Linked DNA regions of Homo sapiens: regions 2, 3, 4, 5, 6 and 7 are each reported to be linked to region 1. Evidence: microRNA targets listed by miRTarBase, many of them from high-throughput screens and not tested one by one. Region 1 holds a microRNA gene; each other region holds the end of a gene's coding sequence. Distances are between the middles of the regions.

What was found. The annotated mature microRNA hsa-miR-4753-3p reads UUCUCUUUCUUUAGCCUUGUGU and lies in region 1 at 1,625-1,646, shown strand. An mRNA with a match to its seed (bases 2 to 7 or 8) in the 3' UTR can be bound and repressed. Matches are read on the target gene's strand: a 7mer-m8 pairs with bases 2 to 8, a 7mer-A1 pairs with bases 2 to 7 and ends in A, and an 8mer does both.
Region 2: miRTarBase lists ATXN3L as a target of hsa-miR-4753-3p. Seed matches in the 3' UTR shown: 7mer-m8 at 2,619-2,625.
Region 3: the mRNA of ASCL1 is a reported target of hsa-miR-4753-3p. Seed matches in the 3' UTR shown: 8mer at 904-911 and 7mer-m8 at 1,506-1,512.
Region 4: the mRNA of METTL15 is a reported target of hsa-miR-4753-3p. Seed matches in the 3' UTR shown: 8mer at 2,496-2,503, 7mer-A1 at 1,402-1,408, 7mer-A1 at 1,006-1,012 and 8mer at 707-714.
Region 5: miRTarBase lists RPAP2 as a target of hsa-miR-4753-3p. Seed matches in the 3' UTR shown: 8mer at 1,447-1,454.
Region 6: the mRNA of COL4A4 is a reported target of hsa-miR-4753-3p. Seed matches in the 3' UTR shown: 7mer-A1 at 2,615-2,621 and 7mer-m8 at 2,113-2,119.
Region 7: the mRNA of FAM53B is a reported target of hsa-miR-4753-3p. The part of its 3' UTR that is shown has no 7-base or 8-base seed match.

What each region holds. Positions count from the first base shown.
Region 1 is chr1:235,188,591-235,191,685 of GRCh38, reverse strand. MIR4753 (microRNA 4753) reads left to right here and starts at 1,570; the gene lies at 1,570-1,652. The region is part of intron 19 of ARID4B (AT-rich interaction domain 4B); the gene reads left to right.
Region 2 is chrX:13,316,158-13,319,157 of GRCh38, forward strand. ATXN3L (ataxin 3 like) reads right to left here. Exons shown (of 1, transcript NM_001135995.2): 1 at 2,490-3,000. The coding sequence ends at 2,710. GS1-600G8.3 (unknown transcript) reads left to right here. Exons shown (of 17, transcript NR_046087.1): 14 at 405-545; 15 at 2,631-2,679; 16 at 2,851-3,000. Among named protein-coding and RNA genes, the nearest start is that of ATXN3L, 2.4 kb to the right of the region's middle.
Region 3 is chr12:102,958,552-102,961,646 of GRCh38, forward strand. ASCL1 (achaete-scute family bHLH transcription factor 1) reads left to right here. Exons shown (of 2, transcript NM_004316.4): 1 at 1-451; 2 at 811-1,962. The coding sequence ends at 404. Among named protein-coding and RNA genes, the nearest start is that of ASCL1, 2.4 kb to the left of the region's middle. RefSeq lists enhancers at 1-121, 122-653, 1,999-3,095.
Region 4 is chr11:28,330,578-28,333,672 of GRCh38, reverse strand. It overlaps METTL15 (methyltransferase 15, mitochondrial 12S rRNA N4-cytidine), which reads right to left. Exons shown (of 7, transcript NM_001113528.2): 7 at 166-3,095. The coding sequence ends at 2,832. Among named protein-coding and RNA genes, the nearest start is that of MIR8068, 150 kb to the left of the region's middle.
Region 5 is chr1:92,386,538-92,389,632 of GRCh38, reverse strand. It overlaps RPAP2 (RNA polymerase II associated protein 2), which reads right to left. Exons shown (of 13, transcript NM_024813.3): 13 at 1-2,622. The coding sequence ends at 2,622. Among named protein-coding and RNA genes, the nearest start is that of RPAP2, 89 kb to the right of the region's middle.
Region 6 is chr2:227,004,676-227,007,770 of GRCh38, forward strand. COL4A4 (collagen type IV alpha 4 chain) reads right to left here. Exons shown (of 48, transcript NM_000092.5): 48 at 1-2,913. The coding sequence ends at 2,650. Among named protein-coding and RNA genes, the nearest start is that of COL4A4, 160 kb to the right of the region's middle.
Region 7 is chr10:124,620,549-124,623,643 of GRCh38, forward strand. FAM53B (family with sequence similarity 53 member B) reads right to left here. Exons shown (of 5, transcript NM_014661.4): 5 at 1-3,056. The coding sequence ends at 2,694. Among named protein-coding and RNA genes, the nearest start is that of FAM53B-AS1, 82 kb to the right of the region's middle. RefSeq lists an enhancer at 1,143-1,643.

The DNA of each region.
Region 1 (3,095 bases):
CATACTCTGATTTCAGATTTAGCTTCTCTGAGAGTTTACAAAAGCCCCTCTAGAGAATTCAGTTGGACAGGTCATAAGCCAGTTCTGATAAACCTAGGGGTCCACTACAGTTAGAATATCTGACACATTTGGCTGGGCATAGTAGCTCACTCCTGTAATCCCAGCACTTTTGGAGGCCAAGGCGGGCAGATTACCTGAGGTCAGGAGTTTGAGACCAGCCTGGCCAACATGGTGAAACCCTGTCTCTACTAAAAAAAAAAATACAAAAACTTTGCCGGGTGTGGTGGTGGGTGCCTGTAATCCCAGCTACTTGGGAGGCTGAGGCAGGAGAATCGCTTGAACCCAGGAGGCAGAGGTTGCAGTGAGTCAAGATCACACCATTGCACTCTAGCCTGGGTAGCAACAGCGAAACTCCATCTTAAAAAAAATAAAATAAAAAGAATATGTGACACATTCGCAGTGGATGTTATGTGGGAGTGTGCTCAGTCGTAGTAGCAGACTACTCTATATATATTCTCATTCTAGGCTTATGGTGATTTACCCCTATTTTTCACAAGTAGGTCAGAATGTTTCTGCTGGATAAAATGATGTCATTAGCTGATCTAGGTAGTGGCACATAAGACATGGAAGGGAGAGCTGGAATTTCATTGACACATAGTTGAAACAAGATAAATACAGATTTTAAAATCCAGTCTGGGTCACTCAGGCATTCAAAGACTACAGAGAGGCGGTAGCAGGTAGCTTAATGATAATAGCCTGCAGTATGACTTTCTTTGGAAATAACACTGCTGTAGTCTGGACTGGTTTCCCTCTATATCTGTTGCACAGCTATTTTCCTAGGGAGATCCCATTCTAGGGATCTCCTTTAATGTAGTTCTTGGATTTCTTTGTTTTTGGCATCTCAGGTTCCTCCCCACCCCCATACTTTCATTTTGGTGGAGCACATTCTCTAGTAGCTTCTAAAGAACAAGTGCATGAGATGGAATTTTTAGAGATTGGCTGCATTTAAATATCTGTATTTATTTTTGCAAATATCTTTATTCTATTCATAGTTTGGCTGGATTGGAAGTTTTTCCTTCAGTATTTTATTGGCAGTGTTGAATTGTTTTTTTGCTTCCAGTATTGCTTTTGTGAAGTCCAGAGCTCTTCCAATTCCTGATTCTTTGTATGTGACTTGTTTTATTCTTTATTTTTTGCTTTTCTGTCTCTGGAATCTTTTTTTTTTCTTTTCTTTTTTTGAGATGGAATCTCACTCTGTTGGCCAAGCTGGAGTGCAGTGGCACAATTTTGGCTTACTGCAGCCTCTGCCTCCTGGGTTCAAGTGTTTCTCCTGCCTCAGCCTCCCGAGTAGGTGGGATTGCAGGGGCCTGCCACCACGCCTGGCTAGTTTTTCTATTTTTAGTAGAGATGGGGTTTTGCCATTTTGGCCAGGCTGGTCTCGAACTGCTGACCTCAAGTGATCCACTCACCTCAGCCTCCCAAAGTGCTGGGATTACTGGCATGAGCCACCATGCCCTGCTAGGAATCTTGAATCTTTGTTTTTCGTATCCAGAAATTTAACTCTGAAATATATCTACACAAGGCCAAAGGAAGAGAACAGATATATCCACAGTACACTTGGCTGTTCTCTTTCTTTAGCCTTGTGTAGATATATTTTCATCCCCTGTGATGCCTACTTGCTAGACTCTTTCATTCTAGCAACTTCTGTCTTTCTGTTCTAGGCAGTTTTTTTGAATGATTTTCTTGATGATTTCCTCTCCTGCATTTTACTGTTCTCTCCTTTTTAATTTTTGTTCATTGTTACTATTTTTGAGATGAGGTGTTACTATATTGCCCAGGCTGGTCTCAAACTTCTGAGCTCAAGCGATTTTCCTGTCTCAGCCTCCCAAAGTGCTAGGATTACAGGCATGAGCTACTGTCCCAGCCCTGCCAAATTTTTTTTTTTCTTTAATTGAGACTGTGTTTCACTATGTTCAGCCCAGGCTGTTCTCACACTTCTGGGCTCAAGCAGTCCTCCTGCCTCAGCCTCCCAAGTAGTTGGGTAGCTGGGGTATAGGTGCATGACACTGCACTTGGCTGTTATCTTTCTTTGGCCAGCCATTATTTGATATTATACCTTCTGTAATATACTCTAATATGCTCACCTTTTAATTTCTTGCTTTTTATTAATTTTTTTGTCTTTTTATTTCTTTGAAATTTTATCTGCTTTGTCTTTTAATCCTTTTGTTGACTTTTTGCTGTAATGTTTAAGTTTTCAATGATTTTTTTTTTTTTTTTTTTTTTTTTGAGACTGAGTCTCACTCTGTTGCCTAGGCTGGAGTGCAGTGGCATGATCTCGGCTCACTGCAATCTCTGCCCTCCAAGTTCAAGCGATTCTCCTGCCTCAGCCTCCCGAGTAGCTGGTATTACAGGCGCCTGCCACCGCACCCAGCTAATTTTTTGTATTTTTAGTAGAGATGGGGTTTCACCATCTTGGCCAGGCTGGTCTTGAACTCCTGACCTTGTGATCCACCTGCCTCAGCCTCCCACAGTGCTGGGATTATAGGCGTGAGCCACTGCGCCCAGCCTTTCAATGAATATTTTTAAATTAAACTAGTTTAATTTTTCAAGAGCTCTGTTTTCTGTGTGTTTTGTACCACTCTGTTCTTATAGATGGATGCAATACCTTACCTTTCGGATTTTGATCTTTCAAAGGATTTTATAATTTTTGGTTTTTTCAGTTACCTCTAATTTGCTTTTTTCTGTGTTGTTGTTTTGAGCTCTTCCCTATTAAGAATTTTTTTTCCTGGCTGTCTTATGATTATGAAGGAAAGACTAAACTGATTTGGAAATTGCAAGCATATGGTTGGCACTTGTTGACCTTGAGTTTCACTATCGGGTGATCTGGTTGGCCATGTCCTAGGGAATTCATAATATGAAGTCTTTAGGTCTTTTTCTCTTAGACTAGTTGGCTTCCAGAGAAAAGAGTTCCAATCTCTTGACTGGAGGGTGGTAAGAGAATGGTTTCCAGTGTTCTAGGATCTAGTTGAAGAACAGAGAGTGGGGTGGAGGATTCTTAGTGGTTAGATATGTTCATGAATCCCCCTAATTTCAGC
Region 2 (3,000 bases), not on the chromosome of region 1:
TCCTAACCGTGATACTGAACAAGGAATTTTGCAAATCACCAGGTAAGAGATGATTGTGTCTCTAAAAATGTGGTGACCGTGGGATTTTGCAGATATCCAATTAAGGAATAATGTGTTCCTAGAAATTGTAGTACCAAGGTATTCAGCAGTTACCCAGGAAAGAAATGGTATGTCCCTAGCAATGGCATTTAATCTGGGTAATTTGTAGGTCTCCATGTATGGTAGGTTTTTCTAAATCTGATAGATCTCATGGGCTTCTGTAGGCATCCGCATGAGAGATGATATGTCATAAATTGTAAGTAACTGCCACTACCGTAACCAAAGTATTTTATAAGTGTCCAGCTAAGAGCTCTGGCTTTATGTATTTGTTGGATTTATGACCATTTTTTTCTGTGTTTTCATAGTTTTTTTTCTTTTTTTGAGAGTCTGGCTGAGGTATTGCTGATGCACGCATAAACCACAGCATGCACCATGGGACTGTCCCAGGGACCTGGTTCACTGATGAGATGTCCCCACACGTCTTCCCGCCGTGATTTCTTTCACAGGTACTCAGCTGAGAAATGATTGAGTCCTTACCAATCCCAGATTGGCCAGGTTTTCCCATTTTCTGTTTCAACAAAAGTGTATGCTGAAACCTGTGAGTGTAGAGGGATTGCAGGGAGTCAGGTATTTATCACTGTATTCCCCGCCCCCGTGCTGCCCCTAGGATGTCTACAGGTGAACAGTCGAGAAACGGTGGTTTTCTGCTATCAGGGTCGACCTGAGATTACTGCAAGTATCCAGGTCGAGTGGGTGTGTCCCCAAAAGATGGAAATCAAGGTTATTTGTAGGAGTGCTGGTGGAAAACCCCATGTCCTTCTACACATGTGTCTTCTACACATCTGATTTTGCAAGCTGCCAGAGAAGATATGATGGTGTCTCTAAAAATGTCTAAACATGTGGTGACCACGGGATTTTGCAGATAACCAGTTAAGTAATAATGTGTCACTAGAAATGGTAGTCCCAAGGTATTTAACAGTTTTTCAGTCACCCAGGAAAGAAATGATGTGTCCTTAGCAATGGCATTTAATTTGGTTAATTTGTAGGTCTCCATGTCTGGTAGGTATTTCTATATCTGGTTGATCTCCTGGGCTTCTGTAGGCATCCACATGAGAGATGATGTGTCACAAATTGTAACCAAGTGCCAAGGTATTTTACAAGTATCTCACTTAAAGCTCTGGTGAATATAAGTTTTTGAAGATACCCAGTAGGGAATGATGTTGGCCTAAGCCGTGGTAATGCCCACGAGTAGTGCCCATATCTTGGTAACAGGTGGTGTGTGTCTAATTATGGTTGTCACCATGGTTTTTTTGCAAATTCCAGCAACATAATGAAGACAATCTTAACCGCTCTTATGAATATAGGATTTCGCAAGAATTGAGGAAAGAAATAATGTGGGCTTTAACCAAGTAGACATGATTAGATTTTGGGGATTTCTAAATAAGTGATCACGGTGTCCCTAACCATGGGATTTTGCAGGTTGTAGTCAATAGGTGATGATGAATTTAACAGTAGGCGCAAACATGGGATTTCTTGATACCCAGGTAAGACATGATGTGGTCCTTAAACATATTACAGACCATATGATTTTTTAGATACCTAGATAAGCAATAATATATCCTGAAATCTTGATGTTACCTTTTTTTTTTCCCATTTAAAAAGTCGCTCATTCTCAAATATTTGTGCAGGGCTGATTTCAGAGTATAAGAATGCACCAGCGGTTGGCCCAGTGACTCACGCTTTAATCCCTACACTTTCGGAGGCCGAGGCGGGCAGATCACTTTAGGTCAGGAGTTCGAGACCAGCCTGGCCAACATAGTGAAACCCTGTCTCTACTAAAAGTACAAAATTTAGCCGGGCGTCCTTGTACATGCCTGTAGTCCCAGCTAGTCGGGAGGCTGAGGCACGAGAATCACTTGAACCCAGAAGGCAGATGTTGCAGTGAGCCGAGGTTGGGCCACTGCAGTCCAGACTGGGCGACAGAGCGTCTTTGCCCCCATCACCCCACCCCCAAACAAAGAAAGAGTAATGCACCAGAGTCATGAAATAATGATCTTACCACAGAGGGCGTAAAAAACAAAACCTCAGAAAATATTACCATATTTCGAAAGACTTGTGGAAAATAATTAAGGACCAGGTAGCAGAAATTGTGATCAGAGGAAATAACATAAGAATATACTTAAGCGCACAGTACATAGTTGGAGGGAGAACTGTTTATCCTTCTAAAACCGTTACTATGATCAACACAGACAAGAGACACTTCCCTGAAAGGTTAAATTGTTTCATGAGAAATAAAAGCAACCAAAATGAGCCACATTATCTACAATAGAAGAGACTATATGGAAAAAGTTCTATGGCAAGAGCTAATTCGTTGGTATACAAAAAGATCCATGAAAAATGACCCAATTTTAGACACATTAGATATTGCAGGCTCAAAAATCAAAGGAACATTTTGAAAGCTAATTTAAATTTAATTAATTGCTGAATGTCTCCTTGGCTAGTAGTTGAACGATCATTATTTAGTCCCACATCTCTCTCGTCATTTTGTTTGCAAACTGTCTAAAAGCCTTATTTCCTCATCTCTTTGACAGATGACCAAAATGGATCCTACAGTATAATCACACAGGATAATGTTGGAAAGTATGACTATCTAAATTATTTTTAAAGGCATTATTTTTCCCCTTTGATTTTCAAATTCTTTCTCATAATTTCTAAAATGGTGTCGACAGCGGCCTGTACTGTGCCTTCACTGATGTCATCACTGAGATCACTCTCAATTGCTCTCGAACTTGTTGTTGGCCTTTCGTGTAGGTATGAACTGTGGCCCGGCAGATCTGACTGTTGTTGCTGCTGCTTCTGTTCCTGCTGATGCTTTTCAAAATAGTCTTCTTTTATTTTCTTCGGCTGTTCTGAAGCAGGAGTTACACATGATGTCTTTGGAAGATCTTGCGATGTGTTTCC
Region 3 (3,095 bases), not on the chromosome of region 1:
TCAACTTCAGCGGCTTTGGCTACAGCCTGCCGCAGCAGCAGCCGGCCGCCGTGGCGCGCCGCAACGAGCGCGAGCGCAACCGCGTCAAGTTGGTCAACCTGGGCTTTGCCACCCTTCGGGAGCACGTCCCCAACGGCGCGGCCAACAAGAAGATGAGTAAGGTGGAGACACTGCGCTCGGCGGTCGAGTACATCCGCGCGCTGCAGCAGCTGCTGGACGAGCATGACGCGGTGAGCGCCGCCTTCCAGGCAGGCGTCCTGTCGCCCACCATCTCCCCCAACTACTCCAACGACTTGAACTCCATGGCCGGCTCGCCGGTCTCATCCTACTCGTCGGACGAGGGCTCTTACGACCCGCTCAGCCCCGAGGAGCAGGAGCTTCTCGACTTCACCAACTGGTTCTGAGGGGCTCGGCCTGGTCAGGCCCTGGTGCGAATGGACTTTGGAAGCAGGTAGGTTGCATTTTGGGGTGGGCAGGGGGGTATTCTTGCCTTCGTCCTCCCTCTGAGTGTCTGTGGAAGTGGGGATGTCTCCAAGGAGATAAGGGGATTTTTATTTAAAGAATTTGTGAAAGTTGGTCGATTTCAAGTCCTAGTTTGTTAGTTTCAGCACTGGCCTCTGAAAATGGCCTTGCCCAGGTCTCCAAGGAGTGAAGGGTAGTAGTGAGGTGCAGAGATACTGGTGAACCGAATACTGGGACATGTTAAAAGAGATGTCTACCTGACAGACTCTTTCCCCAGACCTCCATCTCCCTCTACCACTAGCCTACACGTTCAAATTAACCTCTCCTGTTCTTTTCCTTATGTTATAGGGTGATCGCACAACCTGCATCTTTAGTGCTTTCTTGTCAGTGGCGTTGGGAGGGGGAGAAAAGGAAAAGAAAAAAAAAAGAAGAAGAAGAAGAAAAGAGAAGAAGAAAAAAACGAAAACAGTCAACCAACCCCATCGCCAACTAAGCGAGGCATGCCTGAGAGACATGGCTTTCAGAAAACGGGAAGCGCTCAGAACAGTATCTTTGCACTCCAATCATTCACGGAGATATGAAGAGCAACTGGGACCTGAGTCAATGCGCAAAATGCAGCTTGTGTGCAAAAGCAGTGGGCTCCTGGCAGAAGGGAGCAGCACACGCGTTATAGTAACTCCCATCACCTCTAACACGCACAGCTGAAAGTTCTTGCTCGGGTCCCTTCACCTCCTCGCCCTTTCTTAAAGTGCAGTTCTTAGCCCTCTAGAAACGAGTTGGTGTCTTTCGTCTCAGTAGCCCCCACCCCAATAAGCTGTAGACATTGGTTTACAGTGAAACTATGCTATTCTCAGCCCTTTGAAACTCTGCTTCTCCTCCAGGGCCCGATTCCCAAACCCCATGGCTTCCCTCACACTGTCTTTTCTACCATTTTCATTATAGAATGCTTCCAATCTTTTGTGAATTTTTTATTATAAAAAATCTATTTGTATCTATCCTAACCAGTTCGGGGATATATTAAGATATTTTTGTACATAAGAGAGAAAGAGAGAGAAAAATTTATAGAAGTTTTGTACAAATGGTTTAAAATGTGTATATCTTGATACTTTAACATGTAATGCTATTACCTCTGCATATTTTAGATGTGTAGTTCACCTTACAACTGCAATTTTCCCTATGTGGTTTTGTAAAGAACTCTCCTCATAGGTGAGATCAAGAGGCCACCAGTTGTACTTCAGCACCAATGTGTCTTACTTTATAGAAATGTTGTTAATGTATTAATGATGTTATTAAATACTGTTCAAGAAGAACAAAGTTTATGCAGCTACTGTCCAAACTCAAAGTGGCAGCCAGTTGGTTTTGATAGGTTGCCTTTTGGAGATTTCTATTACTGCCTTTTTTTTTCTTACTGTTTTATTACAAACTTACAAAAATATGTATAACCCTGTTTTATACAAACTAGTTTCGTAATAAAACTTTTTCCTTTTTTTAAAATGAAAATAATCAGCTGACTCTAAGCTTTCTTTGACTCTGATGCCCCTGGTCCAGTTTTATGAAAATGTCAAAGGGAAGAGGTGGATGGAGAAGAAAATGTTGCAAAACATGCTAAGTGGCAGAAATGACAATGATAAGTGCTATGGCCAGTCCCATCCAAATGGTTTCTTTATGATGAATGAGTGTGTGTTTGTGTGTGTGTGTGTGTGTGTGTGTATGTACATGTATATATGTTTTCTTTCTATCCTATGCTGCAAATGTACATGCCCACCAAAAAGAATAGATGGCTGCATTATCCTTTGATCAAAATTTAAAATCCCCCAAAAAAGTGAACCAGAAAGAGAGGGTCCTCCACCATTTTCCAATTCTCAACTCCATTCTGAGTTTCTCCCTGTGAAACTATGGTGGGGCTGGATGAAATAATGGAGACTAGGTCTGGGTGGGGAGGATGGTGGTTCTGGGATGGGGGTTGGAGAGGCATCCCTCTCCACATACAAGCTCCTAGTGGTGAGTATGTTTCTCTTCCCTCACTTCCAGGCATACATTTTCTACTCATTTTCTCCAATACACCTACTTGCTATATTGATTTTAAGTAAGAGGCATATATGATATGAATTCATTCCAAACGGATTGAGATTTTAATTAAAAAAACGCATTAGAAATGTGTGGTCGCTTTGAGACACTGGTCTATCTAAGCTTGTGACTCTATCCGAATAGCGTGAGCTGCGTGTAAAAGTACCCAATTACCAAGATTCAAAAAGAAATTGGTGGGTTTTTGGCTGGCTTGCTTCTTGTCAGTTAGCAAGGACGTGATTAGAATCCTACTCGGCCTCTCGCCGGCTCCTCGCTCGCCGCCTGCATTACTTGCAGATTCAGTTTGCGTGTCTCCAGCCAAGCGGAAAGCCGAGCGCAAAATGCATCTTACAAAACCCAACAAAGAACGGGTAGCCAGCACGTCTTCCAGAGTTAAAAATCTAGTCTGTGTTGGTACATCTATACCATTTAGTGGCACAGAATAATCATTTTTTAAAGCCACGATGCGCGGAGCACGCCACAGCGTCTGATGTCATTTTGCTAAATGACCCTCTATAGAATGCACATTGAGGCTTCAGTCCCTTTCAAAGAGATGAGCGTAATTA
Region 4 (3,095 bases), not on the chromosome of region 1:
TAATTAATATACAATTTTAAAAATAAAATAAAAATAGGGATATTATCTAAAAATTGTAGTTATTAAATTTTATTTAAGTAATGAACTAAAAACTGTTAAGAACTGATGTACTACACAATGACATTGATACTATGTTAAAATGATTCATAGAAGGCAGTCAAGACAGAGATTCAGAAACATTTTATTAGAAAAGTAATGCGCATTCATAGTAACATTAGCTTTTATTTCTGTGTACTGTAGGAACTTCCCAAAACCATTCTCCAAAGCTAACCATTTAAAACTCATTCATGTATTTTATTATGCATCCTACAACAAAGACTAAGAAGCAGGCAAGAATTACTATAAAACACAATCTAATTACAGAAAAGTTAATTTATTTTTACATGAAAACATTTTGAAACCAATTTTGTGTTTATTGAAGGATTTTTCTCATGCATATTATCCAAGATTTTTTTCTGTCAGAGTATTAGCTTCCTAGGATTGCTGTAACAAATTACCATGAACTGGGTACCTTAAAACAGCAGAAATACATTCTCACTGTTCTGGATGCTAGATGTGCAAAACCATGTTAGCAGGGTTGGCAACTACTGGAACTCTGAGGGAGAATCTATTCCATGCTTTTTTCCTATCTTCTGAGGGTTCCCACAATGTATCACTCCAATCTCTGCCTCCAGCTTCATGTGGCATTCTCCCCTGTGTCTCTATCTTCTCTTTCTTCCTTTTTTTTTTTTTTTTTGAGACAGAGTCTCGTTCTGTTGCTCACACTGGAGTGCAGTGGTGTGATCTCGCAACCTCCACCTCCCAGGTTCGAGTGATTCTTGTGCCTCAGACTCCTGGGTAGCTGACATTACAAGCACCACGCATGGCTAATTTTATTTTTAGTAGAGATGGGTTTTCGCCATGTTGGCCAGGCTGGTCTTGAACTCCTCAGCCTCAAGCGATTTGCCTGGCTTGGCCTCCCACAGTGCTGGGATTACAGGCGTGAGCCACCATGCCCGCCCTATCTTCTCTTATAAGGAACACCAGTCATATTGGATTAAGGGCCTGCCCTGCTCCAGTATGACCTCATCTTAGCTACTTACAACCACAACCACAGTATTTCCAAATAAGGTCACATACTGAGGCTCCAGGAAGTACATGAATTTTGGAGAGGACACCATTCAACCCAGTACATTCAGTTTCTATTTAACATAAAAAATAATTCCCATACTATACAGGGTGAAAAAATGACTTATGAAATAGGTGAAAGATTGTTGAATATACAAATGTGATCTTTTCTTTTCCAATCACATACAGAGATAAGAATTTTTTGGGAATATGTCTCATTCACAAATATGTATTATATGCAAAGAGAAATTTATACAATGTTCAAGTAGGATTCAGGGAATTAACCTAGGTGCATTCTCTTGTTTCTATTTCAACCATATTGTTCTCCAGATTTTTTTCCTAATTCTGATTTCCCTGTAGGATTGTTCAGATTTAAATAAAGCCTGTAAAGCAGAAGTAGTGAACAAGCCTGGGTACTAAAGTTAAATATTACAGAGGCAGATAAAATAAGTCTGAGGAAAATTCATGCATTTAATTCTATCTATTTTGCCCACATAGTTATGCTGATATTTCATTCACTTGGATTCACCAACCTAAAATTTGTAACTATAATGGAGAATCTTTTTTCTGTATTTGAAAAAAGTGCACTGAGCAAATTAATAGTATAAATATGATTTCAAGGATAACTAAGAGAATATTTATTTCTATGTATGGTTAATCAACATGCCCCCTTCCATACTCCATGTGCCCTTTGACTAATTATCTCCAACTCATCTTTCAGGTCACAATTTAAGTATAAATAATAAATTAGAAGTACATATTACTATAAAAAATTGACATGTGAATTATGAATCAATCTCCTCAATTTGTTAAAGAATCTTCTACCAAGTACTCTTTTCTTGAATAAACTTTTACCCATATTACAGTTACCATATCTTTGTAACAACATTAAGGGAGCATTGATTTTACTATATTAAATAGACAGTTTTCTATTTCAAATAGACTTGGCTGAATTATTTTGATTAGCTCAATTAAAAAATACAAGATTCTAATAAGAGACTTTATTACTTACTAAAGGCATTGTGAGCTATTATTAAAATAAATACAATTGACATGAAATATAAGTTTTGTGAAACAATTCTCTGTAAGGATTTTACATTTTTACTTTGCGATAGATGAACAAAATGGCCCATATCATACTGAAAAATCCCTTTAAAATAATAGACTATAATTTGAAAGATGAAATTTTATCAGTATAACACACATTTAAACTAATATTTTAAAATTTAAAATTTGTAAAAAGCCTACATTTGAGAAAGCTAATTATTCACAAGTAGGGACATTAAAATTCATTCCATAATCATCATTATTTGAGCCACAGAAAGACTGATGCAAATTGGAATATCTAAATTCAAAATTTAGGACATGCAGATATGATTACAACATCTTTCTCTTTGGTAGCTTGAGTTTACGTATTTAGATAAACACAACACAGTATTATTTTTTAAAAAATTTCCTGGCCAGAGGAAGGATTGCCTTCAAGAGTCCAATATGATGCAAAGATTAACATATTTTTCCAGTCTGGAGGTGCTGCTGCTCCCTGAGTGTAACTTTCTCTGTCATGTATTTCCTACAGTTTCTTTTTGAGAAAAAAGAAATGCTAAATGCTATCAATTTTCAGACTGTCCCACACTTAAACCTATACCAAGACATTCAGGGACATAACATGAGTAAAGATTAGAGAAATTGTGAGAAAAAAATTTGAAGAATAAGATGATGATAACTTATAATTTGATAGCTGCTCTAAGCTTGGCTGAGCGCCCTCTGGGGTTATCTTGTACATCCTGATCTTGTGGACTAAGTACCTTCTTGTGTATCAATTCCCACATTAAAGGAGCTCTTCTCATAGAGACTTCTTCCGTGTTTTCGTGATCTGAACCCAATTGAGATGTTTTCATCACTTGTTGTCTAACACTTAGGTTAAATCTTTCTGTCATGCTTATTCCAAGCAAAAATCTTTTGACGATGCGATCCTCTAGTGAATGGAA
Region 5 (3,095 bases), 140 Mb from region 1:
TTCCTTGCGACGCATTAGAACATGCTCCTTTAGCTTGGAGAAGTTTGTTATTACCGACCTTCTGAAGCCTACTTCTGTCAACTTGTCAAACTCATTCTCTGTCCAGTTTTGTTCCCTTGCTGGCAAGGAGTTGTGTTCCTTTGGAGGAGAAGAGGCATTCTGGTTTTTGGAATTTTCAGCCTTTCTGGTCTGGTTTCTCCCCATCTTTGTGGTTTTACCTACCTTTGGTCTCTGATGTTGGTGTCCTATGGATGGGGTTTTGGTGTAGATGTCCTTTTTTTGATGTTGATGCTATTCCTTTCTGTTAGTTTTCCTTCTAATAGACAGGCCCCTTAGCTGCAGGTCTGTTGGAGTTTGCTGGAGGTCCACTCCAGACCCTGTTTGCCTGGGTGTCACCAGTGGAGGCTGCAGAACAGCAAATATTGCTGCCTGATCCTTACTGTGGAAGCTTCGTTCCAGTGGGGCATCTACCTCTCTGAGGTGTCTTTCGGCGCCTACTGGGAGATGTCTCCCAGTCAGGCTACACGGGGGTCAGGGACCCACTTGAGGAGGCAGTCTGTCTATTATCGGAGCTTGAACGCGGTGCTGGGAGAACCACTGCTCTCTTCAGAGCTGTCAGGCAGGGACGTTTAAGTCTGGAGAAGCTGTCTGCTGCCTTTTGTTCAGATATGCCCTGCCCCTGGAGGTGGAATCTACAGAGACAGTAGGCCTTGCTGAGCTGTGGTGGGCTCTGCCCAGTTTGAGCTTCCCTGCTGCTTTGTTTACACTGTGAGCATAGAACCGCCTACTCAAGCCTCAGCAATGGCGGACACCTCTACCCCGCCAAGCTCCCACGTCCCAGGTCGATTTCAGACTGCTGGCGCTAGCAGTGAGCAAGGCTCTGTGGGCGTGGGACCCACTGAACCAGGCATGGGAGGGGATTTCGTGGTCTGCCAGTTGCGAAGACTGTGGGAAAAGAGCAGTATTTGGGCAGGAGTGTACCCCTCCTCCAGGTATAGTCACTCACGGCTTCCCTTGGCTAGGAAAGGGAAATCCCCCGACCCCTTGGCGCTTCCCAGGTGAGGCGATGCCCCACCTTGCTTCGGCTAACCCTCTGTGGGCTACACCCACTGTCCAGCCAGTCCCAGTGAGACGAACCAGGTACTTTAGTTGAAAATGCAGAAATCACCCATCTTCTGTGTCCATCCTGCTGGGAGCTGTAGACTGGAGCTGTTCCTATTCGGCCATCTTCAATTTATTTTTATTTTTATTTTTTGTGGAGACAGGGTCTCACTTTGTTGCCCAGGCTGGTCTTGAACTCCTGGGCTCAAGCAGTCCTCCTGCCTCTGCCTCCAAAGTGCTAGAACTAAAGGCATGAGCCACCATGCCCAGCCCTCTTGAATGTTTTATAGTTTTCGTTATACAAGTCTTATACTTATTTTGTTAAATTTATTCCTAAGTATTTAATTCTCTTTGGTGATATTGTGAACACAATTTTCTTTATTTCATTTTTGGAGTTTTCTGAACAGAAAAATACAATTGATTTTCTGTATATTGATCTAGCCTGTGACCTTGCTGAACTTGATTAATTCTATTACACTATGATTTTTTGTTGTGGTTAGACCCTTACACAATCAAATGAGGTTAAAAAAAATTGTCAGAGTGGCCCCAGACCAACAACAGGATGACAGTAGCCTTTGCCCATACAGAGATAAAATTTAGTTTTTGCAGTCCTTTCCCATAGAGATTGTATGGCAGTAGCCAATTCTATGGCCTACTGCCATACAACCTGAACTGAAGTCCAGAAAGTTTAGGTGACTGGGCCACAGAGCTAATTACTGGTGGAGCCAAGAAGAGAAATTATATCCCTACCTCCTTGCCCACTAAGCTCCCCATTCCAGTGGGCTGCTTTCTGGTCCTTTTCCATGATTGGGCTTTAGTAGCTGTCATTTCCTCCAGTGTCCAAGAGTATTTTCTTGGCCTTCCAGTAAAGCTCCCCAAGTTGTCTGTGTTCCGCCTCAACTGCTAACTTGCCTACCTGATAAACATTTTGAAAAGCAATCTAAATTCTAGAAATTGTCTCTCCTGCAAACAAACTACAGATTCCATTTAAAGCATTTCCTTGAGTCCAGAAAGTTCTGAGATTTTCCTGTTTTGGACTAGACTTCCAAAGGGCTTCATCTTAAATTGTATGTATTTATTGACCTAATTGTTTACTGATCTTTAGAATTTAGAGTTTAGGTTGGGAGGTCAAAATCATAACTTTCTCAATTTTTTTGGCAAACTGATATGATGGCTGGAAATCATCCAGAAAAAGTAGAGATCATTATATTTTCTTGAATATTCATTCAAGTTTCAATTTAATACTTAAACATTCATTTTCGAATAAAAATACTATGTCTTGTACTAGGGATACAAAGACTTGGTTATTCTTGTTGGAGTAATGATTCTCCTCTATCTGGGGAGGTCATCCTCTGCAGTTGGGGACTGAAGGACTGGGAGATGGGAGATTGAAACTTAAAGAGGTAAAGGTATGTCTTGGAATAAAACTAGTTATCAGTCACCACCAGACCATCATGGCGGCTAGAATTCCAGAAACGGTGAATAGAAGTTCATCTTCTATTTTGTCTTCATGGAATATATCTGTGAAGCAAAAAAGGATACTTTGAGTAAAACATGTATTGGGAGGCCAAGGCAGGCAGATCATGAGGTCAGGAGTTTGAGACCAACCTGGCCAGCATGGTGAAACCCCCATCTCTACTAAAAATACAAAAAAACCCAAAAAGTTTGCCAGGCATGGTGGCATGCACCTGTAGTCCCAGCTACTCGGAAGGATGAGGCAGAAGAATTGCTTGAACTCGGGAGGCAGAGATTGCAGTGAGCCAAGATTGCACCATTGCACTCCAGCCTGGGTGACAGAGCAAGACACCATCTCAAAAAAAACCCAAAAAACAAAACAACAAAAAAACATGTAAAGTATTTTACTAGCTGTTGTAGACACTGTGTGTCTTGTCAATATTCATTCAATTTCTTCCCCATCATGTATATTCTACCCAACAACAGTTTGGGTGGAGTAGACTGAGCTTCGTATTCAACTTGAGGGCTAAGTTTTAACT
Region 6 (3,095 bases), not on the chromosome of region 1:
ATGTGGGGAGTGTGAGAGCAGAACGAAAGGGCCACTCATAGCATGGAAACCTGCCTGGATGAATGGGCTCCACTCACTGAGAATCAGAACCCAGAAGGAAGCATCCCAGATTTCCAGCACGGGCACAGAACAGAACAGTTCCCATTAGGGCAATCTAGGCACGTTCCAGTCTACAAGGTTGGTGGGGAGGCAGGGAGAGAAGGGTTTGATAAGGATCATCTCCAATAATGGGTTAGGAGAACAACTTAAAAGCTTTGTTCATCACCTCCACAGAGAAAGGGTAATTGAAGGCACATTGATATATAACCAGGTGAAGAAAATAATGGTTTAAGGTAACAGGATCTTCTATTCCAAGAAGTTATTTTTCCGCCCTTTTGATCCTTTAAAATACTTTTGTAAAATTAGAGGGCAGTGTTAATGCTGCATTTAGAGACAGCTCTTGTAATACTAACATTTTGAACAGTCTGATACCTTCCCAAGCTCACTGTGGAGTAAACTGTCTACATAATTTAGCCTGTCTTTGTGTGGGTTTTTTTTTTTTACTTATTTATTAACTTATGAAGATAATATTCTAATACCAACATTAAAGTGTTTAAAATAATTAGCAAGCAAGATACGTTTCTGATGTTCCATTTGTCACCCTTACCTCTTCCCAGAAAATGTTCTCAGGCCAAGTTCAAGATGAACAGGTTGAACTTTTAGGAGGGTTGACTTTTGGTAATAGATAAAGCTTTTTGGGAAGGAGAAAGGTAATCACAAATAAGATTGAAATTGGCTTAAGTTTTAGGTGCACAAAAATATTCAACATGCCAGAGCATGGTTTAAAAAATATCAAATGGGTCAAATGAACTAGGAAATATTCTGCTACATCAAGAAAATATTTCATCTTAAAATACACATTTTTCTTTTTACCAGAAAATACTCTTAAAATAAATTGCCACCCTGGGGGCAGCCCATAGCAAAACTCATTTGAAATGTGTTCTGCATATAAGAGCTCATTACAAATCAAGGTTTGGCAAGGAAAACATTTCTTATAAACAAAATTTTAATTGAGTTTTTCTTCTCAATTATTTTTAAGTGCACGGAAACAAAGCACTAAAATGAGTGTCACGCTCATGAGAAATTTCTTTAGTTTTCTCTAAAATGCCTTTTTCTTTTAGATGAGGAAGGTGAGTTTCCTAAAAATTTTTTCCAACAAATCTTTTAAATTTAGGATTAGATCACCAAATTCCTAGCAAAACAGAAAAAGGGATCTTTTGCTTTACAGAAAAAAATAATCATTATAAATTGACACACATTCTAAACTTTTTTAGAAAATACTAATGCCAAATGTCAAACTGTTGCCTTGGTACAAGACTGATATGAAATATAAGAATGTCTTTAAAATTGGCAAAATGGGATGCTCCTGTAACAGCCAACCACGGGAGCATAAAATTCAAATTATAAATTGTCTTTGTTTCGTTTAAAGATAGTGCCATGTCCTCCTGATGGGGTAACCCTGACTTAAATGAATCTTCTTACCTAAGTTTAATTAAATCGGCCCTTAATTTTCTCCCAAGTGCATAATGATAGCTCTGTCACGTCCCTGTGTGAGCTGCCATTATGTGTGTGGAGCAAAGTGTCCGTTGTGAGTGCAAGAAGCTGTGCAGGCTCTCCTGGGGAGGGGAGTGAGATGCTTTGTATGAAGCGCGTGCCTGCCTGAGTGAGCCCCATGTAGCGTCAGTCCCATTAGCACGCACGCACCTGTGACACGCCGGACCCCGACTGGGGAAAAGCAGTCTGTCTGGAAGTTCACTGCAATGGGGAGTCAATTTTTGTGAATAACTACCTTAATATTCACTAATAGCTTTTAGGCTCCTAATCTCTTATTGAATATTTTTTTTCCATAATTGCTACTTTTCAAAAGGGTTGCCAAAGTAGGCATTTCTATTCTCTGAAAAATGCAGAAGAGAACATAATGTTTTATATTCATCTGTGATGTGTTTATGCTAATGTCGCATCTCTGGAATACGGCGACTGTGGGCCTTCCTGCCATCATGATTCATTCTCCTTTGAAAGGAACTGTTAACGCTGGCAGTGTGAATTTTTTTTTTTCTTCTTTAAAAAAAAATCTCTCTTTGCGTCATGGTTTTACCATTATTTAAAGTATATGGAAAAATAGATTACAGAGGAAATCATTTTGAAATGTTGAAAATCTCTGCTTTCTAGTTTCATTCATTGACCTGTTTATTTTTTCCTATAAAATCCATCCAGAAGCCCACTGTATTATAGAGTAATTGACTTCAATTGTTTGAGATACTGTTAACCCAAGAATGAAGTTTTCAGTAATGTAATTTGTAATCTGGCCTTTATCATCTACTTGCCTTTCTGAGAATTAGCATATTTTTAAGTAAAGCCAGTTCTTCGATCATCCTCAGTAAAATAAGAGTATCTAGGCTCCCTAGATTGGGAGGTCCAAACAAATCCATCTGTGCAGCATTTGCTTAATGTGTAAGGAACCAGAGGACTCTGGGAATAACCACGACAAAACAGAAGGAACCACTGAAAGGGAGTCCAAAATGAGCACCATGACATCTCTTAGCACAGTCTAGGAAGTCTTAGCCCCCTAGGAAGTTTCTCTTGGCCACGTGTTGGTGAATTTCGCATTCTCTAGCTATACTTCACGCAGACCTGGCACCGGCTGATTTTCTGGCGTTGGGCCTGGCTTTCTTTTAAGGTGTCTGGTGCTGGAGCAGAGGAAAACTGCAAGTCTGCTTTCACCGTTGTGAGCCAGAAGCTATACTTATTTGCGAAAAAGTGGCAAGTTCCCTGCCGGCCCTGGCATTCAAGGAATGGTGCTGCTCTGAAATCTTCCAGGCAGCTGCCAGGTGACATAAGGGCCTGCCCTCCTCCTTGGTCCCCAGCTCCTGTGTGCTACCCAGAAAACAAGAGAGAATTAGGGCTCAGACACACACAGACAACCCCAGACCCAATCAGGGACACACCCAGGTTTGGGTCTGATCTTAACATTTTTCCTTAGATTATTCCATAAAGAACAAAATACAAGCGCTGAAAAGGAGTCGTACTCAGCATGGTAAGTATGCACACAAATTGGC
Region 7 (3,095 bases), not on the chromosome of region 1:
GGGGGTGAGCTGTCTGCCTGCTGCCCATGGGGACACCAATGTGGGGGGCACCTCCTAGGCGAACCTCCCTCCCAGAGGACTGAGATCAGAAGTCCTGGGGCCAGCAGGGTGGAGTGCAGGAACAGGCTGCTCCGGGCAGTGTGGCAGCTTGGATGATGGGGTGGCACCTTATAGATAGGGTCTACTCCCTCCAGTCAAAACACAAACATGAAACCAGCTAAAGGCCATTTCTTTCTCTAAGCAGAAGGGATAGCCACCATTTTCTCCCCTGACTGCTGCGTGGTGGGCACAGGACAGGCAGGCGGGGTCTGAGGAGGCTGGGTCATTTCTCCCTAAGCGCCCTGGGGCTGGGCTTGCTGGTCGATGGGACCAGCTTGCGGGGAGGTGGGGAGGTGGCTGTGACTCAGCCAGCTCCACAGCTTGTCCCTTCCTGCCACCAGGCCTGAATGGGGAGGTGGCAGGCAAGGTTTGAGGGCAGGTCACCCACACCCCAGTCCCACGACATATACCTGTCACCATGTGCCTCCCACCCCAGCCCTAAGCAAAGGTAGCTGGGGGCTGCTGCATGCCTCAGCCTCAGCTGGCACCGTCCACCTCCCTCACTGCCTCTGCCTTCCACAGGAAGGCCTGCTATAGAGGCTGTGTGCCCTCGGCCACACCGGGCATGTGGTGCCAGGACCCCCCACGCCCAGTGGTACTCCGGGGGCAAGACATGGCCATGTGCTCTCCACATTCACCCAACAACTGCCCTGGCCGCCTCCACATTTGCTCTAAGAAGACATGGTCTCCATGACCCCCAGGCAGGGACAGGCCAAGATGTCTCTGTCTGCTCAGAGCCACCAGCTCTTGGGTTCGGCTGTCCGGGATCACAAGTAGACATGCCTCCGGCAGGAGCTACAGCAACCAGAGGTGAGCTGGTTCCCCGGCTCTGGGACCTGCCCAGTGCCCGGCATACCCCATGTGTCAGCCACCTGAGCTAGCAACACCATCTCTCAGGGCTGTGGGGCTGGGGGCTTTCTGCCAGCTCCTTAAAGCTGATTTTTAAGAAGTGCCACCCACATATTGGGAACTTGAACCACCATCCTTTTGATGTAGTAAAAAAATAAGATTTAAACAACGTTTCCCAAAAAGCATCTTTCTTGAGGAGAAAGAAGGTGAGAAGCATCTGGACTCAACCTGCAGAAGCGAGGCGTTCACTCGTCCATGAAGACGAGCAAAAGCAAAGTGACTACAAAAGTGCTTTGAACGCGCGTGTCAGCCAACACAAGGGAGCGCACCAGTTATTTTTAGCCTTATGGGAAAATGAGCCACTTGCTCCTAAGCCAGCCCAATTGCTATTGTTTGCAGAAGACGCCACATTCGCTAAAAGCCAGATTCCCATAGAGCAGAGCCCATGTGGTGGTGTCTGCAAGGCAGCCGGAGAGGAGCTACAAACCTTGAGAGGAGAGCAAACCCTCAGGGGGCTAGGCTCCTCGGATGCCCCAGGGTGAGGAGCCAGGGTGGGGTAGGGGCAGGGAGCATGAATCCAGCTTTGTGCCGGTGGCTGGGCCTACAACAGAGATGCAGCCCTCAGGACTGGGCTCCCCCTAAGCTGACAAGGGCGTGGGCTTGTCTTGAGGTGGGTGATGTGCCCTGGTTACAGCCAGCAGTCCTCAAGGACAAACGGGAGGTGCCTGGAATCCTGCAGGGGCCCCTGCAGAGTGGCCAGCGGACGCCCTTCACCCCTGAGTGCGCATAGGGCCCTCATCTGCCCACCTGCTCGCAGCTCCCGTCTCCCGAGGCCGTTTTCAAGAGGCTGCCCTGGTATCGTGCCATCCCTACACTCACCGGAACCAACCATGCTTATCACTCAGTGACCTGTCAGCCACAGAGAAGGGCTGCCATCTGCTAACCCTGCCCCAACGGTGGCAGAGCCATGGGGTCAGCCTCTCCATGCTGTAGGAGAGGCAAGCAAGTCCGTCTTTTCAGCCAACAGATCCACCAAATTTCTACCCAACACGGGAGGCCCTAACAAGCACCCTCCAAATCGTTCCTTGGGCCCGAGACTCCGGACATGGCTTACCCTCTGGAGGGCCAGTCCAGCACCCCAGGGATTCTGTCTCTCACATTGGAATTAAGGCCAAATGGTTCTGGTGTTACAGAAGGAAGCATCTCCCGAACCTTCCCAAGCCTGAAGCAGGGAGACCTGGGAGAGAAGGCACGGAGTAAAACTGAGTGAAAGAAGCTGCGGGGCCGACTCCCCAGAAGTGAACCTGAGTGAGGCCAAGAAGGGCCCTGACATAGCAGATGGCCCCTGGCCCCCACCCCAGGCCCTCCCTGACAGCCCCCACCACCAGGGGGATACAGAGCGGTGCCCAGCTCTGCCGGGGACAACAGAGACTGCCCAACATCCCACAGGGAAAGAGGCAGAAAAGACGCAAACTTCAAAGCTGTCCTCTGGGCTGCAGTAGTTCTGTGGACCTGGTGGCTGCCACGCTCGGGGAGCCGGTGAGAGGCTGACACACCCGCTGTATGACGCGGCCAGGCCAGGCTCTCCCCCAGGCAGCAGGTGGGCTCCCTCTCTGGGACCCGACACCACTCAGGAAGCTTTCATCAGGCCCACGAGTTGGGCTCCCCTTCAAGGGCCCACCTAGTGCCCAGAGTGGGGGCTGTCGATGCCAGCACACCCCAGCCCTGCCTGGGCCCACACCCCCTCAGTTCTTCTCTATCTGCTCAATGTCCAACTCGCCGTCCAGGGAGCAGAGGCTGTTCCCAGGGGCCCCGCGGTCCCGCCAGGCTGCAGCCGGCTCCGCTCTCCTGCCACAATCCTCGTCCAGGGCGCAGCTGTCTGACTCCTCACAGGACAGGTCCTCCTGGCAGGCGAGGTGGTCGTCGAAGGAAGGGGGAAGAGGCTCAGGGACCGGGGTCCCAGCGGGGGTCCTGCCCCCTGGGCCGGAGGCTGAGAGCAGGGCGGTCCAGGCCCTGGTGTTGCTGACGTGGCGGGCGAAGGGGCTCTGGGGACCGCAGTCCTCTGTCCCTGCGCTCAGGCAGCTGAGGCTGCTGAAGGTCTGACAGTTCTGTGGAGGGGCAGACACACAGGTTACTAAGGGTTACTC